Homo sapiens: one gene and its partners. The protein of the gene in region 1 purifies or fractionates together with the protein of each later gene. This does not show direct contact. Each region holds a gene or a part of one and is shown in the gene's direction. Other genes may lie near its edges.

Region 1 (4,514 bases):
GATCACGAGGTCAGGAGTTCAAGACCAGCCTGGCCAACATGGTGAAACACCGTCTCATCTCAAAATACGAAAAATTAGCTGGGTGTGGTGGCATGCACCTGTAATCCCAGCTACTCGGGAGGCTGAGGCAAGAGAATGGTTTGCGCCCGGGAGGCGGAGGTTGTGGTGAGCCGAGATCACACCACTGCACTCCAGCCTGGGCGATAGAGGGAGACTCCATCTCAAAAAAAAAAACAAAAACTTGAGCCTTTGGCAGGGCCTCCACTGAATCCCCGAGACATCGCCAAGTGTCTGAGCCAGGAAGGCCCTTAGAGCCCATCCAGGCCAATCCCCTCTTCATCCAGGTGGGGAAACTGAGGCTAAAAAGGGTGGAGAGGTTAACCTAAGATCACAGGACAGCTGGGCTGTGAGTGGGGGTGCCTGCCCTGCTGGGATGGAGAGTTTTGTGCTGCATTGATGCAGAACCTCCTCCCGCCGCGTTCCTTAGATCTGATGGGCATGTTTGAGAAACGGCGCTTCCGCAAGTTCCTGGTGTTTGTGGCAAACTTCGATGAGAATGACCCCAAGACCTTTGAGGGCGTTGACCCCCAGACTACCAGCATGCGTGACGTCTACCGGAAGTTTGATCTGGGCCAGGATGTCATCGATTTCACTGGCCATGCCCTGGCGCTCTACCGCACTGATGAGTGAGGGGAAGCTGGGTGGTGGCAGCCCCCTCGCCCGGCCCGCCCCCACCCTTCCCACACCTGCCTGCTGTCCCCCTGCCCCGCATGTCTCTTGTACTCAGCCACAGGCTCACCTATCACCCTTTCCATTTCCCCCTTGCATTTGATCCTCATCTTCCCCAGGCCATTCAGGGTGGTGGGAAGACTGGCCTGGTACCTGGGTGGGGGTAAATCAGGGGTGCTGCTATTCCCCCAGCTACCTGGACCAGCCCTGCCTTGAGACCGTCAACCGCATCAAGTTGTACAGTGAGTCCCTGGCCCGGTATGGCAAGAGCCCATATTTATACCCGCTCTACGGCTTGGGCGAGCTGCCCCAGGGTTTTGCAAGGTGAGGACATGGGTTTTTTCAGTTGGCATAGCTGAGTAGGACTAGGGCCAGGAGTGGAGATGGCCGCCTTGAGCATTTTCTTGGTAGTATTTCCTCCTTTCCAATTCGTGCTCTTCATTTACTTCACTCCATCCTTGGGTGATGAGGGCACAACCCCAGTGCACTGAAGTACAGAAGTCTCCACACTTGAAAAAACGAGTCTCCACAAATGTGACTTGCTCAGTTCCCGGCAGCACCAGGACTGGGCCCAGGGTCCCAGAACCTTGAGTCAGGGCTTAGCTGGGAGCTGACCTATCTCCAGAGAGTCCATTCTGGTCCCTCAGGCTGTCTTGGTGCGGAGCACTGATCCCTCATGCCCCCTCCCGCTGGCCCTTGGCAGTGTATTCTGAGCAGAAGCTCCAGAGAGGAAAGAGCCCGCGGAGATGGGGCCAGCGTTCACGGCAGTGACAGAGCTGGGATGAATCCCGGCGTCTCCTACCTGCTGCCTGCCTGGGGCAGCCTTCTTTGCACTTTGGTGGAGGAAGGGTGCAGTGGAATTGGTCCCCGTTTCTCCTGGGAGGGGCCTTCACCGGAGCTGCTCTCACCACAGATTGAGTGCCATCTATGGGGGGACATATATGCTGAACAAACCTGTGGATGACATCATCATGGAGAACGGCAAGGTGGTGGGCGTGAAGTCTGAGGGAGAGGTGAGCCCTTCCCGTGCATGCAGTGCAGTCCCATGGTTGAGGCGGGGCTTGGTCACTTTCTCTGTGCTGTCGAGTCTCCTGCTGCACAGCCCCAAGGGTCTTGGAGCTGGGAACTGGGGGTCCAGAAGTCTTCAGAGTCATGACTGTGGGTGAGAGGTCTCTTTCAGAGGCCACATGCCATGTCTGTGGTGCAGAAAGTGTTCTTGATCACAGTGCCTCTGGGGGGCGGGGGGGCGGGCACCCAGCCCGTGCGTCAAGGCCCACCTATCTGAGCGGCAGGGTAGGGCCATGCATTCAGGAGGGGCAGTAGTGATGGCTCCGAGGAACGTCTTGTCTGCCAGAGCTGCCTGCCCTTGCTGTGAGCGCAGCCCCACGTCTACCTAAGGGAGGGATGTGACAGGGGCGAGGACTTCTGGTGCCTTCTCAGGTGGCCCGCTGCAAGCAGCTGATCTGTGACCCCAGCTACATCCCGGACCGTGTGCGGAAGGCTGGCCAGGTTATCCGCATCATCTGTATCCTTAGCCACCCCATCAAGAACACCAACGACGCCAACTCCTGCCAAATAATCATCCCCCAGAACCAGGTCAACAGGAAGTCAGGTAGGCCGGGCGCTGGTACAGCTTCCTCTAGGGTGTTCTCTTTGGGGTTACTCTTTTTCTCCCCATCAGTGTGGGAGCTCCCTGCCTTACCTCTCTGGAAAAAAATTTGAGCCACATTGTAGCCACCACAACTTGGAGCCCTAGGGTTTGGGTGGCCTGGACTCTTTCCCTCTGGGAGGGTGGCGGCTTGGATGCTACCTGCTCTGCGGGGCTGGGGAGGGGCAGTCGGGCCAGACTTGTGTCCAGCCACTGGAACCCCTCTCTGCGTATGGCCAGCGCCTCTGGCCTGAGTTGACGGAGCTCTTCCTGTGGCCAGACATCTACGTGTGCATGATCTCCTATGCACACAACGTGGCGGCCCAGGGCAAGTACATAGCTATTGCCAGCACTACTGTGGAGACCACGGACCCTGAAAAGGAGGTGGAGCCGGCTCTGGAGCTGTTGGAGCCCATTGACCAGAAGTGAGGGACTGGGCTGAGCCCAAGGGGGAGAGGGAGGGAGCCCAGCAGCTGGGCTTAGGGACCAGGAAGGGCATGGCCCATTGTGAGGCCTGTCCCCTCCCCTCTGTCTGCCCCTCAGGTTTGTGGCTATCAGTGACTTGTATGAGCCCATTGATGATGGTTGTGAGAGCCAGGTAAGCAGCTCGTCCCAGCCCTGGGCTCCTGGCTGCCCGCCCAGGATACCTGTCTGACTCACCCTGGGCGCTGGGCTCTGGCTGTTTCCAGGTGTTCTGTTCCTGCTCCTACGATGCCACCACACACTTTGAGACAACCTGCAACGACATCAAAGACATCTACAAACGCATGGCTGGCACGGCCTTTGACTTTGAGAACATGAAGCGCAAACAGAACGACGTCTTTGGAGAAGCTGAGCAGTGATTGTGGCCGCCCCCAGCCCCTGCTGCCCCAGCCTGTGTCTGTTCTCCTCGAGGGCTCCAGCATCCTCTGCTTCCCCCACCACGTTCCCATCACCCACCTCATTGATCCACTGACCAAATCCTTAACCCTAGCGATGGCTTGGGAGATGGGGGGTTGGATAGCATCCTCTTTCTTGGCCCTTCCTTATCCTAGGAAAAGAGGGTTCCTCTCCTTGTGTGTGTCTCTTCCCCCCACCCCTAATTCTTCTGCTCTGTTTGGGAAGACGTGGAGGAAAAGGTGACTTCTGCCCCCACCGCTCTTACCCCCACTGTAGTGGCCTTTGGAGATGCCCCCACCTCCCCCCCACCAACTCTCGCGTGTTGGAGAGAAGGGGCCCTCCCAGCACAAAGTTGCATTCCTCCCCCCTAATTTATTCTAATTTATTAACTTTGACCCACCCTTTCTGAGCCTGCAGCCTTCCCGTGTGGCCTGAGGGCTGTCGAGTGAGCTGCCCCAGCCCCTCCCAGCCCTTGCCCAGCCTGGGGGAGTGGGGAAGGCTTGGGCATGGCCCCGTTGGAGGTTGATTTGCTGTTTTGTTTCTTGTCTTTGTGTTCTGTGGTACTTGCTGAGAGAAAAGAAAAGTGAGCCAAGCAGAAGGAGGTGGGAAAACGGACCCAAACCCCAGTGTGCCCTGCCCCATGCCTTTCCTTTAGTGGTGGGAAACCCTTATCTTGCAAAGTGAATGTGTCCCCTTCCCCACCCTCTAGTGTATTTCACAGAAAACAAAACCTCCCAATAAAACGGTTGAAACCTGAATCTCTGGATCTTGATGGTTATCTCCCAAAAGCTGGGTACCTGGCAGGGCTTTGGCTGCCTGGGTTGGGGCTCTGGCTTAGCTTCACTCTGGACTGTAAAAGGTGGCATTCTTCACCAGGGAATTCCTCACCCAGAGCACGCTGGGGCCAAATTGACTTAAAGCTTAAGGCTACCCAGTGAGTCGATGCTGGCACCAGGACTGCAGCCCTCAGTGCTCAATGCAGGGGGAGTGTGGTGGAGGGCGGGTGTCAACGTGGAGGAAGCAGAGGGAGCGGGGGTCCTGGCCTCTGGCTTGAAAGGAGAGGGCAGAGGGGACCAGGGGCCAGCCTCGGATGGGATTCTAAGTGAAGCAGGGAGACGGGTGCCAGTTTTCGGCTTAATGCGGGGGAACTAGGGCAGCCAGGGGACCAGCGTTGGGGTCACCAGGAGGAATTAGAGGGACCGGGGCCCAGCCTTGGCTCGGGTTAACGTCGAGGCAGCGCGAGGGGCTGGGGAATTCA
Region 2 (7,130 bases), on another chromosome or scaffold:
AGGGGTGCCCAAGCTGCAATCGTGGTTTACGACATTACTAATCAGGTAAGTGAGCTAAGAAGACTGTCCTTGTTGGCTGGACATGGTGGCTTACGCCTATAATCCCAACACTTTAGGATGCCAAGGCGGGAGGATCATGAGGTCAAGAGATTGAGACCATCCTGGCCAACATGGTGAAACCCCGTCTCTACTAAAATTACAAAAATTAGTTGGGCGTGGTGGTGCGCGCCTGTAGTCCCAGCTACTCGGGAGGCTGAGGCAGGAGAATCGCTTGAACCCAGGAGGCGGAGGTTGCAGTGAGCCGAGATCGAGCCACTGCACTCTAGCCTCGGCGACAGAGCAAAACTCCGCCTCAAAAAAAAAAGAAAAAAGACTGTCCTTGCTTATATTTAGAGGAGTTAGTTTGGGGCAGGGGGTAAGGGGGCAGAAAACGGGTTCTTGAAATAGCAAATAAGAGTACAAATTATGCTTCCAAGTGCTAAGAAGACAGATAATGAATTATCAGAGACCTGTGGTTTCACTGAGGGAAGACCACCTAGAAGAGGTGAATTTTGAGACTCATTTTAAAAGGTGATGGATATGGATTGGCAGTCATTCCAGCCTACTCATTCTCTTCATGTTTTCCTAGGAAACCTTTGCCCGAGCAAAGACATGGGTGAAGGAACTACAGCGACAGGCCAGTCCTAGCATCGTTATTGCCCTGGCAGGGAACAAAGCTGACCTGGCCAACAAACGTATGGTGGAGTATGAAGTAAGGTGGCCCGTGGAGTTCCTCTCTAACACTTCCTCTGTTCCTGGGACCTCTTTTTTTCCAAACCAGCCCTCTCTGAAAACGTCAACAGAGGACATTCATTGTCTCATTCCCCAGTTCTACACCAAGTTAAATACAGCAACACTGTGACCCTAATGACAGCCAGGAGATTTTCAAAGGAGTCAGGAGAAAACTCCAGAGCAGAGGGTTAGGGAGGTACCAGCTGTGGGGGTACCAGTGTGAAAACAGGAAGGAGGGAGCAATTAAATTTGTGGTAAGGGACTATTCAAGTGTCACAACCCAAAAGCCCCCAACTAACTTACCCTCTCCCCTATAATTAAGCTTTCTGACATTTGTGTGTTGGACTGAGTGGACATGGGGTCATCTTGAGGGAGTTGTCATTAAATTATGCATCTAGGCTAGCTGGCTCAAAGGGGTATTAATTAAGGGGAGGGAACCTAGGATTTTGCCTAGCTGTTGTGCTGCATGGGAGTGGAAAGGCAATACTCGTTCCCACCCTACATTCTGAGCACTAATACATCCCACTCCTTGCAGGAGGCCCAGGCATATGCAGATGACAACAGCTTATTGTTCATGGAGACTTCAGCCAAGACAGCTATGAACGTGAATGATCTCTTCCTGGCAATAGGTAAGGTCAGAACATCCTGAGGTCCTCCTTTTTCCCTCGTTTATAGGCAAAATTATAGCTAACCCAAATCAAGGATAGGTGCGAGTATCTCCTTTTGCAAAAACTTTAGGTATGGAAATACCTTAACTTTCTGTTATGACCTCCATCCTTGGCTGCAGCTTTAGCTCCCTTGTCTTCAATGTGTAAGTTTGCCGGCCAGGTGTGGTGGCTAACACCTGTAATCCCAGCATTTTGGGAGGCCGAGGCGGGCGGATCACGAGGTCAAGAGATCAAGACCATCCTGGCCAATGTGGTGAAACCCCGTCTCTACTAAAAATACAAAAATTAGCTGGGCGTGGTGGCGCACACCTGTAGTCCCAGCTACTTGGGAGGCTGAGCCAGGATAATCACTTGAACCCGGGAGGTGGAGGTTGCAGTGAGCCGAGATTGTGCCACTGCACTCCATCCTGGCAACAGAGCGAGACTCCATCTCAAAAAAAAAAAAAAAGTTTGCAAATAGTGAACCCTCCCATCTTCAGAACATTCTTTTAATCTCTCAAATTCTCCCTTTTCCCCAATTCAGTAGCCGTTTTTGGCGGGTGGAGGCAGAGGGGTAGGGAAGTAAAGTCTACCATACTTTGTTCTCTTCTCTTTTTATCTCTAGCTAAGAAGTTGCCAAAGAGTGAACCCCAGAATCTGGGAGGTGCAGCAGGCCGAAGCCGGGGTGTGGATCTCCATGAACAGTCCCAGCAGAACAAGAGCCAGTGTTGTAGCAACTGAGGGGGTGGCTAGCAGCAAACAAGTATGGAGCTAGCACAAGAGCTAAGAAATAACCTCCATCCCTACCCCTCAGCACACAACCCCTACGGTAACAGCACACTGAGCCCTGGCTCCCAAGGGCTGCCTCCTGACAGCTCCGTCATGGCACTTTTTAACGCTTCAGCAACAAACACCAGGCAGCTGTTGCCACTGGCCTCCTACCCCCTACTCTGGGGCTTGGGGGTCAACTCCCCCCAGGACTTACCTTCCAAAACAAACTTTCTTCACTTTGTATTATAGGTACAAGACAGCGACTTACGTATCTTTTCTCCTCCTCCCTAGTGTTCCTCCCCATTTTTTCAGAAAACACTTCTGACTCCTGTCCCTTCCCCTTCTGCTTTTGGTCAGTCCCTGTTCTTGAGCCTCTTTTCTCCTCTCCCCAGGATGCAGAAAGTGGTGAACCCAGGAACTGAGGAAGGAGGTTTCCAGTTCATTTACATTAAGGGCCCTGGGGGAGAATAAAGCTCAGAGCAGGAGGGAGTAAGGAAACATTTCCTTTTTGTTTTTATTTGGTTGGAGTTTCTCATATTTGAAAACATTGCGGTATCCATGATTTGGCCTTGTGGAGGGTGTTCCTAGGTAGAGGTGAGAATGGGGAGGCAAGATCTCAGGCACCAGGCAGGAGGTGCCTTGTAAGCTAACTGGGCGGAGGTGGAGGTGCAGTGTCAACTGTGGCTCTGTAACTCTTCAAAGGCCCAGTTTCCCCTCACGCAGCCTCTTAGGTAGCGTTTCCCCTAATCGTGGGGGTTGGACCCCAGAGTCTTCCAAAGAATTTTCACTGGTTGCCTGCATCTTTGGCTCTGCTGTGATCTGATTGGAGGAGGGACAGTTTCTGGTACCCATCCTCTGATTTATACATATGCATTTTTTCCCCTCTGGCCTTTAGATGGCCTCAGCCCCAGCCACCATATACCCCTGCAGTTTGCACTTTAATTGATGGTAGTTCAGTTGGGGTACTTGTTTTATGGAAGTTTTGATTGATTTACTTGCCCTCCCACCTTCTTTTTAATTCAATGAAATCTGAGGTTAATGCGAGGTTCGAGGAGAGGTTATAGATAAAACTACCAGTGGCAGCTACTCAAGTCCTATCTCCACTGTTAGCTTCCTCCAACTCTAATTATTAACCTATATTCTTGCCAAGCTAACTATTGACTATAGGTTTGCCTTTCCTGGAGAATTAATTGAGCAATTGAGGAGTGTCTCAGGATAGCACAGGCCAAGGTAGGGGAGTAAAAAGGAGGTCAGGCAAAAGGGAGGAGTTTTCTGTCCTTTCCCAGGTTTCACACTCAATTTGATATCCATTACCATGTCTTTTCTACTTCCTTGTAAATAGGTATGATCTTTATTCCCACTGTACAGTCTGTTCTATCCTCTGCCTCCCATCAGGCCCTGTTTCTTTGTTCCTTTGTTAATATCTTGAATTTAGTCCCTCCATCCTTAATCCCCCCATCCCTCCCCATCATGCAACCAGTGGTTTAATCCATGTACCAATAGGGGCTAGTACCACAGAGGCCTCCTGTGGTGCCCTCGTATCATACCACCTGTTCCTGTGGAGAGGGAATGACCGGCACTGAAGGTACCTTACAACTGGCTCATATTATCAGAGGACCTTGGTCCTTTCTAAATCTCTAGTCTCTCTTCATATCCTTCATCAGGTGTTTTAAGATGTCTCTGAGAAGCCATCAAGGCAAAAGAGAACTTTAAGTTCCTTGTTCCAGCCCGGAGTTTTGGGAAAGAAAGAAAGGAAAGGTCACAGTGACCTAGGATTGGAACCTTCCTGCCCTTTTGGCTTGCAGACTGCCTTCTATCCCAGAACAGCTGAGAAATCTATGAAGCTGAGATTCTGAAGGACCCAGCTTAGGTTCTTCCACTTAGGCCTCAATTCCCTTCCTTTTCCAGGGGCAGCCTTAGTTCCCATGGCCCTGAAACACACACATTTCCCCCTTCCTTTCCCAGAAGCCACTGGCCCCCCATAGCACCCAGTGCATCCTTTTTACAAGTGGAAGAACTAGGATGGCTTTCCAAAGTCTTCTAGAAATGAAGTTCTTTCTCTGTGCAGCTTTCCCCCTTGGAGCAGGAGTGAAGATGTTTCATTATCTTGGGCCTGGGAAACCACTTCCCCAGGCTTCTCCCTCCCCCCACCCCCATAGGAACAGGATTTGGCCTTAGCTTCTGGGCCTATCGGCTGCCTTCCCTCTACTTCCTACCACCTCTTCTGCCTTCCTTTGAGCTCTGTTGGGCTTGGGGATCTTAGTTTTCTTTTGTTTATTTCCCAGCTCATTTTTTTCTTCTGGTCAGTTTTTTTAAGGGGGGGTGTTGTGGTTTTTTGTTTTTGTTTTGCTTCTGAGAAAGCATTTGCCTTTCTTCCTCTCCCAACATAACAATCGTGGTAACAGAATGCGACTGCTGATTTACCGATGTATTTAATGTAAGTAAAAAAAGGAAAAAAAGAAAAGGGCATTGGAGTGTTGCTTTTTTTTATTTTATTGTTATTATTATTATTATTTTTGCTATTTGTCAGGTACTAGGAATTTGGAAGAAAGGATACCCAGTAATGTTCTACTGAATCAGAAACACACCTTTCCCTGCATCTTGATACATCTTTATTCCCTTTAATCTTTTCTTAAACATCTAGTTTAGAAAATAGCCCTTCTATTGCTATTTAATCACCCCTCTTCTAAGGCCACTAGATTGTTCATCAAATCAAACCCTATTATATCTTTTTAGGCCCTCTTAACAGAATGTATATGTGTAGGGTATGGTCTGTGGATCTTTGGGCCCACTGATCAGATTAGAGAGAGGGGTGCTATTTGAAGTAGTATACAAAAATGTATGTGCATATTTCTTTTTTTTTTTTTAATTGAGACGGAGTCTCTGTCGCTAGCCTGGAGTACAGTGGCACGATCTTGGCTCACAGCAATCTCCGCCTCCTGAGTTCAAGTGATTCTCCTGCCTCAGCCTCCTGAGTAGCTAGGATTACAGGCACGCACCAACACACCCAGCTAATTTTTGTATTTTTAGTAGAGACGGGGTTTCACCATGTTGGTCAGGCTGGTCTTGAACTCCTGACCTCGTGATCCACCCACCTTGGCCTCCCAAAGTGCTGGGATTACGGGCGTGAGCCACTGCGCCCGGCCGTATGTGCATATTTCTAGGATCCATTTCTATATGTTTCTCAAAGGGGTCCATGACCCAAAGGTTGAAAAACATCACTGAGTTAGTTTTCTTGTAGCTTCCACCTCAACGGGAAAATTTCCTCTGGATCTGCTCTTGACTCCTAGTGTACTTCAAACCCTTCAGTCCACCACAGTCTAAAGGTCGAGGGAAGGGAAATGAAATAGGATTATGTGTGGTTGCAGTAGGCTTTAAATTCCAAAGAATCTGAAGGTGGATAGGAAAGAGGACTGGTGCCAGACAAATCTGACATTCTAGGCCTGTCTCTGTCAACTTAACCAGCTGTGGCCTTGATCAAGTTAGTTAGTGCCTTCCGCCTCGTTTCTTCATCTGTAAAGTAAAAGCTGAAGATTAAGGTCAATTATGTAAAGTATGTGTGTCACACAAAAGTAGATGACACTATTAGGAAGGAGGCTTTTAGATAGTCCCTAACTGACTTCTCTGTATCTTCCTTTGGCTGAGACTTTTTTTTTTTTAGGTTGAAGCTCGCTTTCTCTCTCTCTCCCTCTTTCTCCCTCTCTCTCTCTCTCTCACTCTCTCTCTCTCCATATATATATACATATATATATATATATATATTTTTTTTTTAACAACTGGTAGGATAGGTTGGGCATTAGCCTTCTTCAGTGATTTGATTGTATACAGATTGAAATCCTTTCCATTTCCAAACACTTAAGAGCCAAAGCCAACTTGCCAACTTTTCACTGTCGGTTCCCTTACCTTATATCTCTTGGTAATACCCCCCACCCCCGTTCCCTGATTCCTGGTAAAAGCTCTAGTTGGAGAGCCGAAAGGAAAGGAAATGATCTTTCAAAATTAAAGGTGAACACCTTCACTTAAACTGATTAAAATTGCAGCTCCACCGTCCGGCCTCTAGAGGGCAGTGTATGGATACATTTGTCCAGATTGGGGGACTAGGTTTGATAAATTTTGTCCTGCATCAAATGACAAAAGGGTAATAGGAAATGTATTATATTTATGCCCCTTACTTTGAGATAAGAGACTACAACCTTCATACTTCGGGGTGTTAAGCTGCCATTGCTCTTGTTAAGGGGCAGTTTGTTTTTTAAGAGATGGGGTCTTGCTCTGTTGTCCAGGCTGGAGTGCAGTGCCGCGATCTTGGCTCAGTGCAACCTCGAACTCCTGGGCTTAAGCGATCCTCCCGCCTCAGCCTCCCGAGTACTGGGACTACAGGCGTGTGCCACCAAGGGGCGATTATTATTTTTTTTTTCTACGCAAAATAAAAGACGGCTATTCAGTGTTGTTGTTTCATTTTTGTTTGGGGAGAAATTCGACTAGCCCAAGGAATCTCAAATTCTTGGAACCACTATTTTAGGCATTTCTGTTATCATTCCTGGAATACGAGAACTAAGCGATTGACTTTGCTTTCCCTAAAAGATAAACAGGGTAGTTGTAGTTGCAACAGAGTAGATAGAGGTAGGTCTACCCTGGGTTTAAAGTGGAGATCACAGCCGGGGAAAACCGGACTGGATCCCGAGGCCTCCTCCAGGGAGGGGCGGCAGGGGTGTCTCAAAATCTCCCACCTGTCAGCCCAACTTTTGGATTCCTTGTCACCTTCCACACTGCCCGAGCTCCGGACATACAGCCCTGGTGCACAAGGGTCCCATTCTTTGCACACCAGGGGTATAATGGACTCCGGACTGTTGGCGAGAGTGACAGCAAAAAGAGCCAGCCTCTTCTCCCAGGCTTCTTAGCAACCTGCCTGTCTCGGCTCCAGGAGGCGGGTTCCAGCCAATG
Region 3 (3,895 bases), on another chromosome or scaffold:
GCCTTTTTAAAACTATGATACAGTAATAAAATTGGTCTAAAAAGGCAGATAACAGAAAAGGGCAGTTTTATTTCTGTGACGTTACATATACCTAACACTGGTTTCATACAACTTGCTCCACAATGCCTTTTAAGTACTAAACATATTCAGAGGTCAGGGCTAGAAGATAACAAAATCTATTTAAGAGTTAGAGCTGAGAAGATTTCAGAAGCTTTATAAAGGCATGCCAGGAAATGTCTACAATATTTCACAGCTTGGAGGAAGCAGGCAAAAAGAAAATCAAAACAAAGCTTCCAAATCTTTACTTTGCACGGAGGGGAAACCTATCTCCTGTGATTGTAGTTGTATTTTGTTGTATAAATTGACATAAGAATATTCCTGTTGAATCGTGATTTTATCCATGGCAGTGTTTTTTCATGAGTTATTTTCCTTGTGTGTTTGTTGCAGACCCCTGTAAAAGAGCCCAACAGTGAAAATGTAGATATCAGCAGTGGAGGAGGCGTGACAGGCTGGAAGAGCAAATGCTGCTGAGCATTCTCCTGTTCCATCAGTTGCCATCCACTACCCCGTTTTCTCTTCTTGCTGCAAAATAAACCACTCTGTCCATTTTTAACTCTAAACAGATATTTTTGTTTCTCATCTTAACTATCCAAGCCACCTATTTTATTTGTTCTTTCATCTGTGACTGCTTGCTGACTTTATCATAATTTTCTTCAAACAAAAAAATGTATAGAAAAATCATGTCTGTGAGTTCATTTTTAAATGTACTTGCTCAGCTCAACTGCATTTCAGTTGTATTATAGTCCAGTTCTTATCAACATTAAAACCTATAGCAATCATTTCAAATCTATTCTGCAAATTGTATAAGAATAAAGTTAGAATTAACAATTTTATTTTGTACAACAGTGGAATTTTCTGTCATGGATAATGTGCTTGAGTCCCTATAATCTATAGACATGTGATAGCAAAAGAAACAAACAAAAGCCAGGAAAACACTCATTTTCGCCTTGAATATGTAAATGGGATTAATTTTGTCCTGTGCCTTATGTGGAAAGGAACTTCTTTGGTTTTCCTTTTTTGTTCTGGTGGAAGCATGTGCAGGAGACATATCATCCAAACATAAACCATTAAAATGTTTGTGGTTTGCTTGGCTGTAATTTTCAAAGTAGTTAATTGAGGACAAAGGGTAATGCAGAAGTGATAGCTTTGGTTTGCTGAGTCTTGTTTTAAGTGGCCTTGATATTTAAAACTATTCCTGCCACCATTTCTTCTCCTTGGCCACTTCTTCCTTGCGTCTCCCTGCATGCTGCTTTATTTGCTTCTCCCTCCCCAACCACCTCATGGTATATTTAAGAGTGAAAGGGACAAACTAGTAGGTTTGTCAAGTTTAATATAAAGCACTGATGTAACTTGCTAGGTAAACGGAAAGATAAGTTCTAACTGCCTACTATCCAATGTCAGTTAATTGGTGTCTTCCCCCCTCATTTGCTCTCTTCCCTAAAATGTGTCCCAGATGCCTTCATTTGCTGTTTTACTTCTATGTTCTGCTTTTCCTCCTCTCTTTGTTCCCTTCCTGTCTATCCATTGAGTTTATGAAATGGAAGAGTTAACTGCATGCACTAGTGTTTGGAGGGTGTTGTGGTTTGTCTTTCTAATTAGGTGTATAGCCTATTCACTTTCCTAGAATAAATCTCTTAACCTAAATTTGAGTAGTCTGCATTTTGGCAACTCCTCTAGCAGCTTGGTAGCCTAGTACAGGTTGTTTTTTTAAAAAAGGAAAAGCAGGAAGGAGGAGTGAATTTTATTAACATGTTTGCCAAATGTATTGAGATTTGGCCTCTGAAGAACACTTTTTCAGTGTTAAGTTTCTTTACCTTAAGATTCAGAAATACTTTAGAATATTATTAATTTTAAGTCCTGTCTTTACATCCTTTTGGAAAACTTGTATTACCATGGGTTTGGAAAAAGGACAACGAAAGGCTTTTCATGTAAAGATAAGATCTTTAGCTATCTCTAACCCTGTCCTTTTTTCACTGCATTTTTTCTAGTTTTGCTTCATTGCTTATCATTAGGATAGGGTAAGTGAAGTTTGCTATGCTGCTAGCATCCTAAGATGATACCTTTGTTGAAAGAATTGTGAATAGCATGATTCATTTCTAGCAGAGGCTGAGTTTAGGACAGCAGCTTCCATTGAGAAGTCTTTCTGTGTCGTGAATAGCATTTTAATGACCTCTTGGCTCACATAAGCAAACAACATAGGGACGTATCTGCTATGAAAATCCACAAATTTTTCAGATAGTGCCCTAAAAACAATTTTATATGCCTCACTGGTTGTTATTCTTAGGTTATTCCCACACTTGACTTTATCATTGTTTACTACTAGTAAAAAGCAGCATTGCCAAATAATCCCTAATTTTCCACTAAAAATATAATGAAATGATGTTAAGCTTTTTGAAAAGTTTAGGTTAAACCTACTGTTGTTAGATTAATGTATTTGTTGCTTCCCTTTATCTGGAATGTGGCATTAGCTTTTTTATTTTAACCCTCTTTAATTCTTATTCAATTCCATGACTTAAGGTTGGAGAGCTAAACACTGGGATTTTTGGATAACAGACTGACAGTTTTGCATAATTATAATCGGCATTGTACATAGAAAGGATATGGCTACCTTTTGTTAAATCTGCACTTTCTAAATATCAAAAAAGGGAAATGAAGTATAAATCAATTTTTGTATAATCTGTTTGAAACATGAGTTTTATTTGCTTAATATTAGGGCTTTGCCCCTTTTCTGTAAGTCTCTTGGGATCCTGTGTAGAAGCTGTTCTCATTAAACACCAAACAGTTAAGTCCATTCTCTGGTACTAGCTACAAATTCGGTTTCATATTCTACTTAACAATTTAAATAAACTGAAATATTTCTAGATGGTCTACTTCTGTTCATATAAAAACAAAACTTGATTTCCAGCTGTGTGGTTTGGTTTTCATTTATTTATGGAATTGGAAGATTACTTCTGAAAAAAATGTGGAATCGCAAACTCAAAGAGTTGACAAAAATGGGAAATCACTGTCAACCTATGGAAAACTGGAAAGGCAATTTCAAGAACTGTCTTTGCTGAGAAACTACATTAAAAAATAGAATTATCTCTGGGATCCTAAAGCGGAATCATCCTTGTGCCAAAATAGGAGATGCCACGATCCTAATCACACCTGGCTTACACTAGTTGGATGTGCCTAAGGCCACTACAGCTGAGGTCACCTGATTCCTCAGGGGGACCAAGCTGGGCTCCTCATACTGGAGGGTAAATCCTTGTTTTAGCAGCAGCTGGCCTCTTACTAAGAAACAAAGTATTGGCCAGGTGCGGTGGCTCATGCCTGTAATCCCAGCACTTTGGGAGGTCAAGGCGGACGGATCACGAAGTCAGGAGATGGAGACCATCCTGGCTAACGTGGTAAAACCCCGTCTCTATTAAAAATACAAAAAAATTAGCCGGGCGTGGTGGCGGGCGCCTGTAGTCCCAGCTACTCGGGAGGCTGAGGCAGGAGAATGGCGTGAACCCGGGAGGAGGAGGAGGAGGCTGCAGTGAGCCGAGATAGCGCCACTGCACTCCAGCCTGGGCGACAGAGCAAGACTCCGTCTCAAAAAAAAAAAAAAAAAAAAAAAAGTATTGGCTGGGCGCTGTGGCTCACGCCTGTAATCCCAGCACTTTGGGAGGCCGAGGCGGGTGGATCACCTGAGGTCAGGAGTTCAAGACCAGCCTGGCCAACATGATGAAACCCCGTCTCTACTAAAAATACTAAAAGCCGGGCGTGGTGGCGCATACCTGTAATCCCAGCTACTTGGGAGGCTGAGGCAGGAGAATCACTTGAACCCAGGAGGCAGAGGTTGCAGTGAGCC
Region 4 (6,870 bases), on another chromosome or scaffold:
CTCTCCTCTCCAGAACCTCCCACATCATGGGGATGTATGTTGGGATCACGCCTCCCGCCATCTCTGTATGTCCCCTCCTCAAGGCTGTGACAGCAGCTCAACCCTTGGCTGTGCTGGGAGATGAACCTGCTCCCGCTCCCAGCCCTGCCAGGCAAGGACTCCGAGTGAAGCTTGTTTGGCCACAGAGCTGCTTGCCTTTTTCCCTGACCATCAGAAGGGAGGCCAGAGCTGACAGAACCTAGGAGTCAGAGACAAAGAACTGGGCACTCCTAGATCCTTCTGGATTGGTCGGTTAACTGCTGGGTTCCTTTGGACAAGTCACTTGGCCTCTCTGAGCCTCAGTTTCCTCTCTGGCCAACTGAGTGTCGCCCCATCTCACAGGGCTTAGGGGAGGTGGCACATGCGTAAAGTCCCGTCAATGCTAAGGTGCTCTGCGGAAGTGAGAGTTGATGTCAGAGAGTAAGGGTGGGTGGGAGGCAGAGGGAGCCGGGGAAGGATGAGCTGGGGCCGGACAGGCCAGATGAACCCACTGCCAGAGGCGGGCATCAAAGGGCCAAATGGGAGGCCCACGCCTGGGAAGCTGTCTCACCACACCCGCTGTACACGGGCGGCTGAGGACTCAGGGTCCTGCCATCCCAAGGACTCACAATGTGCTTATTCCACAGGCATTTTTCACTCTCGCCAGAGATATCAAAGCAAAAATGGACAAAAAATTGGTGAGTGTGTGTCCTTCCGAGATCCCCGGGTGGATCTCTGGGATCCAGCCATCGTCGTTAGCAGCAGTGATATGACGTGCCCTAGATCCTGCTTTTTAGGGCCCAGCCAGACCCCATGGGACATTGCTGGGAAAGGGGGAAGAGTTTGCAGGTGTGGCTGGGGCATCAGCATCAGGCAGTGCCAGCCTGGGGACGCTGCCCAAGCAGACAAGGCCGTGCCCGGTGAATCCCCAGGCTAGCAGGGAGCACACGGCCTTTTCCATTCCACTCAAGGGCCAGAAAGACAACATGGTGTGCAAGGACAGAGAGCCATGGCTCGGAGAAAAGCTTCCTAGGTCGCTTGGGCAGGGCCAGGGCTGGTGTCTGATAACTGCTGGCTCATCGTCTTGACAAGCATGGCAGATCAAGAACCTGCCCCCGCTCCACCCCAGCCCCAGATGCTACAAGTTGTGACAGCTCTGCAACCTTCATTGTGTCCCAGGGTTCTCTGAGGCCTCCAGGGAAGTCTGCATGAATCCCTACCCATCTACCCTCTCATTCGTTTCTTGCTTTTTTTTTTTTACCACGTTAGCGATTTCCTAGTCCGCTGCGCTCAGTATCAATGGTGCTTTCTTGATGGAATCAAACACTTCCCTGTACTTTGGGGGCATTTAGTGCCTAAACACCGTAGTGACCCTTCCTCCCTCGCCCTGGTTCCAGCAACTGCCCTTTCCCGGCCATGTTACATTGGTTGTCCAATCGAGGAGCACACGGCGCTCTATTTGTGGGTTAAGTCTGGTCACTTGAGAATGCACATAAAATACAAAATGCCGTTCAAGTTTTACATCTGATGTAAGCAAATCTGTTTTGTAATTCTAAGATGCGGTGTGTTGAACAGTGAGGCATGTGATTGATTTAATAGCAGCTCTTTGGCCATTAAATTAAAATGGGAAACAGTTCATGGAAACCAGTGCACTGACCAACAATAATTTGGGATTTTCTTGCAATTTTTTTTCTTCAGTATAATGGTCAAGGTCTGATTCTTTTTTCTTTTAGTTTTCTTATTAGTTAAAAAAGAGATTTTTTTTTTAGAGTCTCACTTTGCCACCTAGGCTGGAGTGCAGTGGCACCATCACAGCTCACTGCAGCCTTCAACTCCTGGGCTCAAGCAATCCTCCCACCTCCGCCTCCCAAGTAGCTGGGGCTATAAGCACACACCACCATGCCTGGCTAATTTTTTTTCTTTTTCTTTTTTTTTGAGAAGGAGTCTCGCTCTGTTGCCCAGGCTAGAGTGCAATGGTGCAATCCCTGCTCACTGCAACCTCTGCCTCCCAGGTTCAAGCGGTTCTTCTGACTCAACCTCCCGAGTACTTGGGATTACAGGCACATGTCACCACGCCCAGCTAATTTTTGTATTTTTAGTAGAGACGAGGCTTCACCATGTTGGTCAGGCTGGTCTTGAACTCCTGACCTCAGGTGATCCACCTGCCTCGGCCTCCCAAAGTGTTGGGATTACAGGTGTGGGCCACCCCGCCTGGCCATTTTTTCTTTTTTAAGAGGCAGGATCTCACTTGTTACCCAGGCTGGACTCAAACTCCTGGGCTCAAGCAGTTCTTCTGCCTCAGCCTCCCAAAGTGCTGGGAAGGGTATGATGGGGTGGGCAGATAAGTGAGAGAGTGGTTGGAAGGGGTGGTATATAGCAGATGGAAAATAGATCTGTTTCTGAAAAACGAATTATCAGTTGTAAGAGAATTGGATGGATGGGTAGAAGATAATGGATGGATGGTTGGTTGAAAGGGAATAAATCGATGGTTGATTTGTTGGAAGGAGATGGTTGGATAGATAGATGATTGGTTTGTTGGTTGGTTGGAAGGGGATGGATGAATGGTTGGTTGGAAGGAGGTGGTTGCTTGGAAGGGGATGGATGGATGGTTGATTGGTCAGAAGGGGTGGTTAGAAGGAGATGGTTAGTTGGAAGAGGGTGGATGGGGGGAAGGAGATGGATGGGTGGATGGATGGTTGGAAAGGGATGGATGGATGGTTGGTTGGATGAGGTGGTTAGAAGGGGATGGATGGTTGGTTGGTTGGTTGGAAGGGGATGGATGGTTGGAAGAAGATGGATGGTTGGAAAGGGATGGATGAGTGGATGGTTCTTGGTTGGAAGGGATGGATGGTTGGTTGATTGGTTTGTTGGTTGGAAGCAGGTGGATAGACGGATGGAAGGGAATGGGTGAGTGGATGGATGGATGGTTGAAAGGGTATAGATGGATGGTTGGTTGGTTGGTTGGTTGGTTGGTTGGTTGGTTGGTTGGTTGGATGGTTGGAAGGGGACAGCTGGACGGACTGGCAGATGATGGATGGATGGTTTGATGGCTGATTGGTTGGTTGGATGGCTGGAATGGTAATGGATGGATGACCTGGCAGATGATGGATGGATGGTTGGATGGCTCGTTGGTTAGTTGGTTGGTTTGGCTGGTTTGATTGGTTTGGTTGTTTGGTTGGTTGGTTGGTTGGTTGGTTGGATGGTTGGATGGATGGTTAGGTGGATGGTTAGGTGGATGGCTGGTTGATTGTGAGACGTAGTGCTGATTCTCAGTGATAACCTCAGAAAACCTCTTGTGATTTCAGGAAGGCAACAGCCCCCAGGGGAGCAACCAGGGAGTCAAAATCACACCGGACCAGCAGAAGAGGAGCAGCTTTTTCCGATGTGTTCTTCTGTGAGGAACACCGCCTTACTCTGAGCCTCGCTCAGCCCAGCTGACTGTGCCTGTTCTGAGTGAGCCCCTCACTCAGCCGGGGCCCTCCCACCTCCAACGCCCCGCCCACGCCGCGGCCACCGGGCCCACGGCCACCAGAATGCAATTGAGAAATCGTTTATTTTAGTAACTGTCTGATCTTTTTCAACTTTGGAGATGGAATAAGTTAAAAATTTGCTATTTTTCCTGTAACATCTGCTGAACGGGCCCACCCACACGTTGTATATTCAGAGAGAGAGAGGGAGTCAAGGTGTGACCGTCGACCACAGCCAGTGTCAGGCCTCTGCCTCTGGGCCTTTGCTTTGTGGCCTCACTGCAACACAAAGCTCCACCAGGAGGCTGGTTCACGTCCCCTACCACGGAAGCGAGGTCCCAGAAGGCCAGCGGTGGTTCCAGGAGCAACAGCTCCCAAACCCTGAGCAAGGCAACCGATCGCCAGGACCAGGAAGCATCACCCAGGAGATTTGGCGCCCACTTCCACCTCTTCTCTCAGTTTTGGACAAGTGACAAACCATTTTGCCCCCTCACTCTTCTTTTTTAACTGTTAAACCAAAGGAAAGCACAAATGAAGGAAATCCTGTGTAAAGCATTGAGAAGGAAAGAAGCCTGGAGCAGCCTCTCCTGTCCACAGCCAGGGGTTAGGTCTGCAGGCCCGTCTGCGGTCCCCATCGAGCATCAAGGGGACGCTGTGTGTGCTGCAAGTGACCCCGAAAACAACCACAGCCGTCACATGGTCCTCCTGAAGTTGGGGCACCCTCCTCTCAGCACCAAAATGGCCCCCACTCCTTCGTGTCCTCCCGCTATCTCCAAATCGGACGTTCTTTCTAGCTGAGATTTTTATTTTTCCACATCTGTAGTGCCATGAAGCGATTCTGTCTTTGACTTCCAATGGCAAACCTGGGTGATCGGGAACAAGCACGTTGTACCCTTGGCTGGACATGGCCAAGACACAAGGCATTCCACGGCGGCAAGCTGACCGCACAGCAGTCTGGCTTGATTTTCAGCCGTCATCATTGGGTTCTGTTTTGACAGCTCTGCTGTCCCATAGGGACTGCGACTGGGACCAGGTCAACCACGCCAGGGGGGTGTCACCAGCCTTTTCTTTTTTTCTTTCTTTTTTTTTTTTTCCTCCTTAAGCTGCTGTCAATCCAAACCATTGGCATCATCGTTTCTTTTGAATTAAAACCAACATATCAGCAATAGTCTGCTCTCCCCGGGAATCTCTAACATGCTCTGTTTACATCGATAAATGCACTTAAGGAAAACAAACAAATTAAAGCTCATCTTAAAGTCCAAGGATTTTTATGTCCACATTTTCCCTGTAGGCCACACGGACATGGCCAGGTGCTGGGGGTGGGTCTGGACAAGATGGTAGAGCCCATGGATTACCCCATCGAGCGGCCACCTCAGAGGAGATGCCACCCATCATCAAAAGACTAAATTGGGAAAAGAAGCCTCCTGGCTTGGTGCAGTGGCTCACACCTGTAATCCCAGCACTCTGGGAGGCCAAGGCGGGCTGATCACTTGAGCTCAGGTGTTCGAGACCAGCCTGGCCAACATGGTGAGCCTGCGTCACCTGGCTTCTGGCACACAGCTCGGCCACTGTGTCCCTCCTGCCTCCCTGGCAGGTCCTTCTAGGGGCCCTCTCCTGGCTGGCTTTCCAGGGCATTCCTTCCACTCTATCCAGGGTCCTTCCCAAGACCACACCCAGGTCCAGTCATTCCCTAGGACTTGGCAGAGAGCTGTACTCACAGCCAAGATCACAGCAAAATCAGCAAAGGGAAAAGGCATGCAGAGTGAAGTCCAGAGGCAACCAGACAGAAGCATCCAGAATCCTCTCACAGTGGGGTCACACACCCCATGCTTAACTCCCCCAACAATGAGTTGTAACAACAGGTGTGTAATGTGTCTTTTGTGAAAGCTAGTTGGCAGTTCTGTACCCAGGTGTTTATGGAGCCAGTCACATAGGAACCCTCTACCTGGCACTTATCAGGATTCCAGACTCCTACAAAGAAAGCAGGGGTTTAGCATAAACCGCATCACTTGTACAGAAAGTGTATGAGCCACGCATGTAGGGAAGTTTTAATATCCGTAGGGAACTTTACCAACTGCAGGCCCACCTTGCCAGCAGGCCTTTCTCAGGAAGCAGCCTCAGATCTATTCATTCTTTTCTGCACACACTATGCTTTTAGATAGGCCAGTGGCTTTCAAGCTGCAAATCCAGGCCAGACCCAGGTCGGTTTCACCTGCCACTCTCTATTCCAATTTGAATGTCTCATCGGCACCGTAAGCATAACACAGCCCTGACCCTGGACTCCATCCCTGCCTTCCCCATCGTGCCCACAGCTGACCCCTCCCGAGTTGTAGCCACGACCACCTGGACCTCTGTGACCACTTCCTCATGGGTTTCAGGTCCTCACCTCTGTGTTTCAAACTATTTTCAGAGTGTCCTTACGAAACTGAAATCAGTGTCACCTCCTTGCTTAAAGCTCTCCCCAGGGGCTGGGGTGTGTGGCTTATGCCTATAATCCCAGTGCCTTGAGAGGCAGAGGCAGGGGAATAGCTTGAGGCCAGTTCAAGTTAAAGACCATCCTGGACAACATAGTGAGACCCCATCTCTAAAAAAAAAAAAAAAAAAGTACAAAAATTGGCCGGGTGCAGTGGCGCATGCCTCATCCCAGCACTTTGGGAGGCCGAGGTGGGTGGTTCACCTGAGGTCAGGAGTTCAGAGTTCAAGACCAGCCTGGCCAATATGGCAAAACCCCATCTTTACTAAAAATACAAAAATTAGGCATGGTTGCACGCGCCTGTAGTCCCAACTACTCAGGAGGCTGAGGCAGGAGAATCGCTTGAACCTGGGAGGCAGAGGTTGCAGTAAGCCGAGATTGCGCCACTGCACTCTAGCCTGGGTGACAGAGCAAGACTCCGTCTCAAAAAAATAAAAAATAGTATGGTGGCATGCACCTGTAGTCCCAGCTACTCAGGAGGCTGAGGAGGGAGGATCACTTGAGCCCAGGAGTTGGAGGCTGCAGTGAGCTGTGACCACACCACTACATTCCAGCCTGGGTGACAGAGCAAGACCCTTTCTCAAAAAAAAAACAAAAAACCTCCCCAGGTCTTCCTTGGGCTTAGGGATACAACTTACGCCCCTCACCGTGGGGCACAAGCCTCTACACGCTGCAGCCATAGCCCTGCCTACTCCTTCCTCTTTCTCTGGCTGCCCTTCCTGGCTCACTCCACTCCAATCCTCTCCTTCCTTACTCCTTCACTCCACACTCATCACTGAGAAGGCCCCAGGGCCTTTGCACTTGCCACACCCTAGTCTTGTAGTCTCCTGAAATGTGCAAAGCCCACTGTCCATCACATCATGGTTATCCAGGGCTACCTCTGCAGAGGCCTCTCCCAGTCATGCCCTTCTC

What was found.
Region 2: the proteins of GDI1 (region 1) and RAB5B purify together in Homo sapiens (affinity purification with mass spectrometry; 4 studies listed by BioGRID and IntAct, with this or other methods). This does not show direct contact.
Region 3: the proteins of GDI1 (region 1) and RAB10 purify together in Homo sapiens (co-immunoprecipitation; 5 studies listed by BioGRID and IntAct, with this or other methods). This does not show direct contact.
Region 4: the proteins of GDI1 (region 1) and RAB8A purify together in Homo sapiens (co-immunoprecipitation; 7 studies listed by BioGRID and IntAct, with this or other methods). This does not show direct contact.

What each region holds. Positions count from the first base shown.
Region 1 is NC_000023.11:154,439,454-154,443,967, forward strand, and holds the end of GDI1 (rab GDP dissociation inhibitor alpha), read left to right. Parts: intron 1-487; coding exon 488-686; intron 687-921; coding exon 922-1,053; intron 1,054-1,642; coding exon 1,643-1,742; intron 1,743-2,169; coding exon 2,170-2,341; intron 2,342-2,657; coding exon 2,658-2,802; intron 2,803-2,920; coding exon 2,921-2,975; intron 2,976-3,066; coding exon 3,067-3,219; 3' UTR 3,220-4,014; downstream 4,015-4,514. UniProt on the Homo sapiens protein: Regulates the GDP/GTP exchange reaction of most Rab proteins by inhibiting the dissociation of GDP from them, and the subsequent binding of GTP to them. Promotes the dissociation of GDP-bound Rab proteins from the membrane and inhibits their activation.
Region 2 is NC_000012.12:55,990,054-55,997,183, forward strand, and holds the end of RAB5B (ras-related protein Rab-5B), read left to right. Parts: coding exon 1-45; intron 46-628; coding exon 629-751; intron 752-1,306; coding exon 1,307-1,400; intron 1,401-2,043; coding exon 2,044-2,159; 3' UTR 2,160-6,630; downstream 6,631-7,130. UniProt on the Homo sapiens protein: The small GTPases Rab are key regulators of intracellular membrane trafficking, from the formation of transport vesicles to their fusion with membranes.
Region 3 is NC_000002.12:26,134,491-26,138,385, forward strand, and holds the end of RAB10 (ras-related protein Rab-10), read left to right. Parts: intron 1-447; coding exon 448-531; 3' UTR 532-2,964; downstream 2,965-3,895. UniProt on the Homo sapiens protein: The small GTPases Rab are key regulators of intracellular membrane trafficking, from the formation of transport vesicles to their fusion with membranes.
Region 4 is NC_000019.10:16,128,889-16,135,758, forward strand, and holds the end of RAB8A (ras-related protein Rab-8A), read left to right. Parts: intron 1-665; coding exon 666-716; intron 717-3,323; coding exon 3,324-3,416; 3' UTR 3,417-5,346; downstream 5,347-6,870. UniProt on the Homo sapiens protein: The small GTPases Rab are key regulators of intracellular membrane trafficking, from the formation of transport vesicles to their fusion with membranes.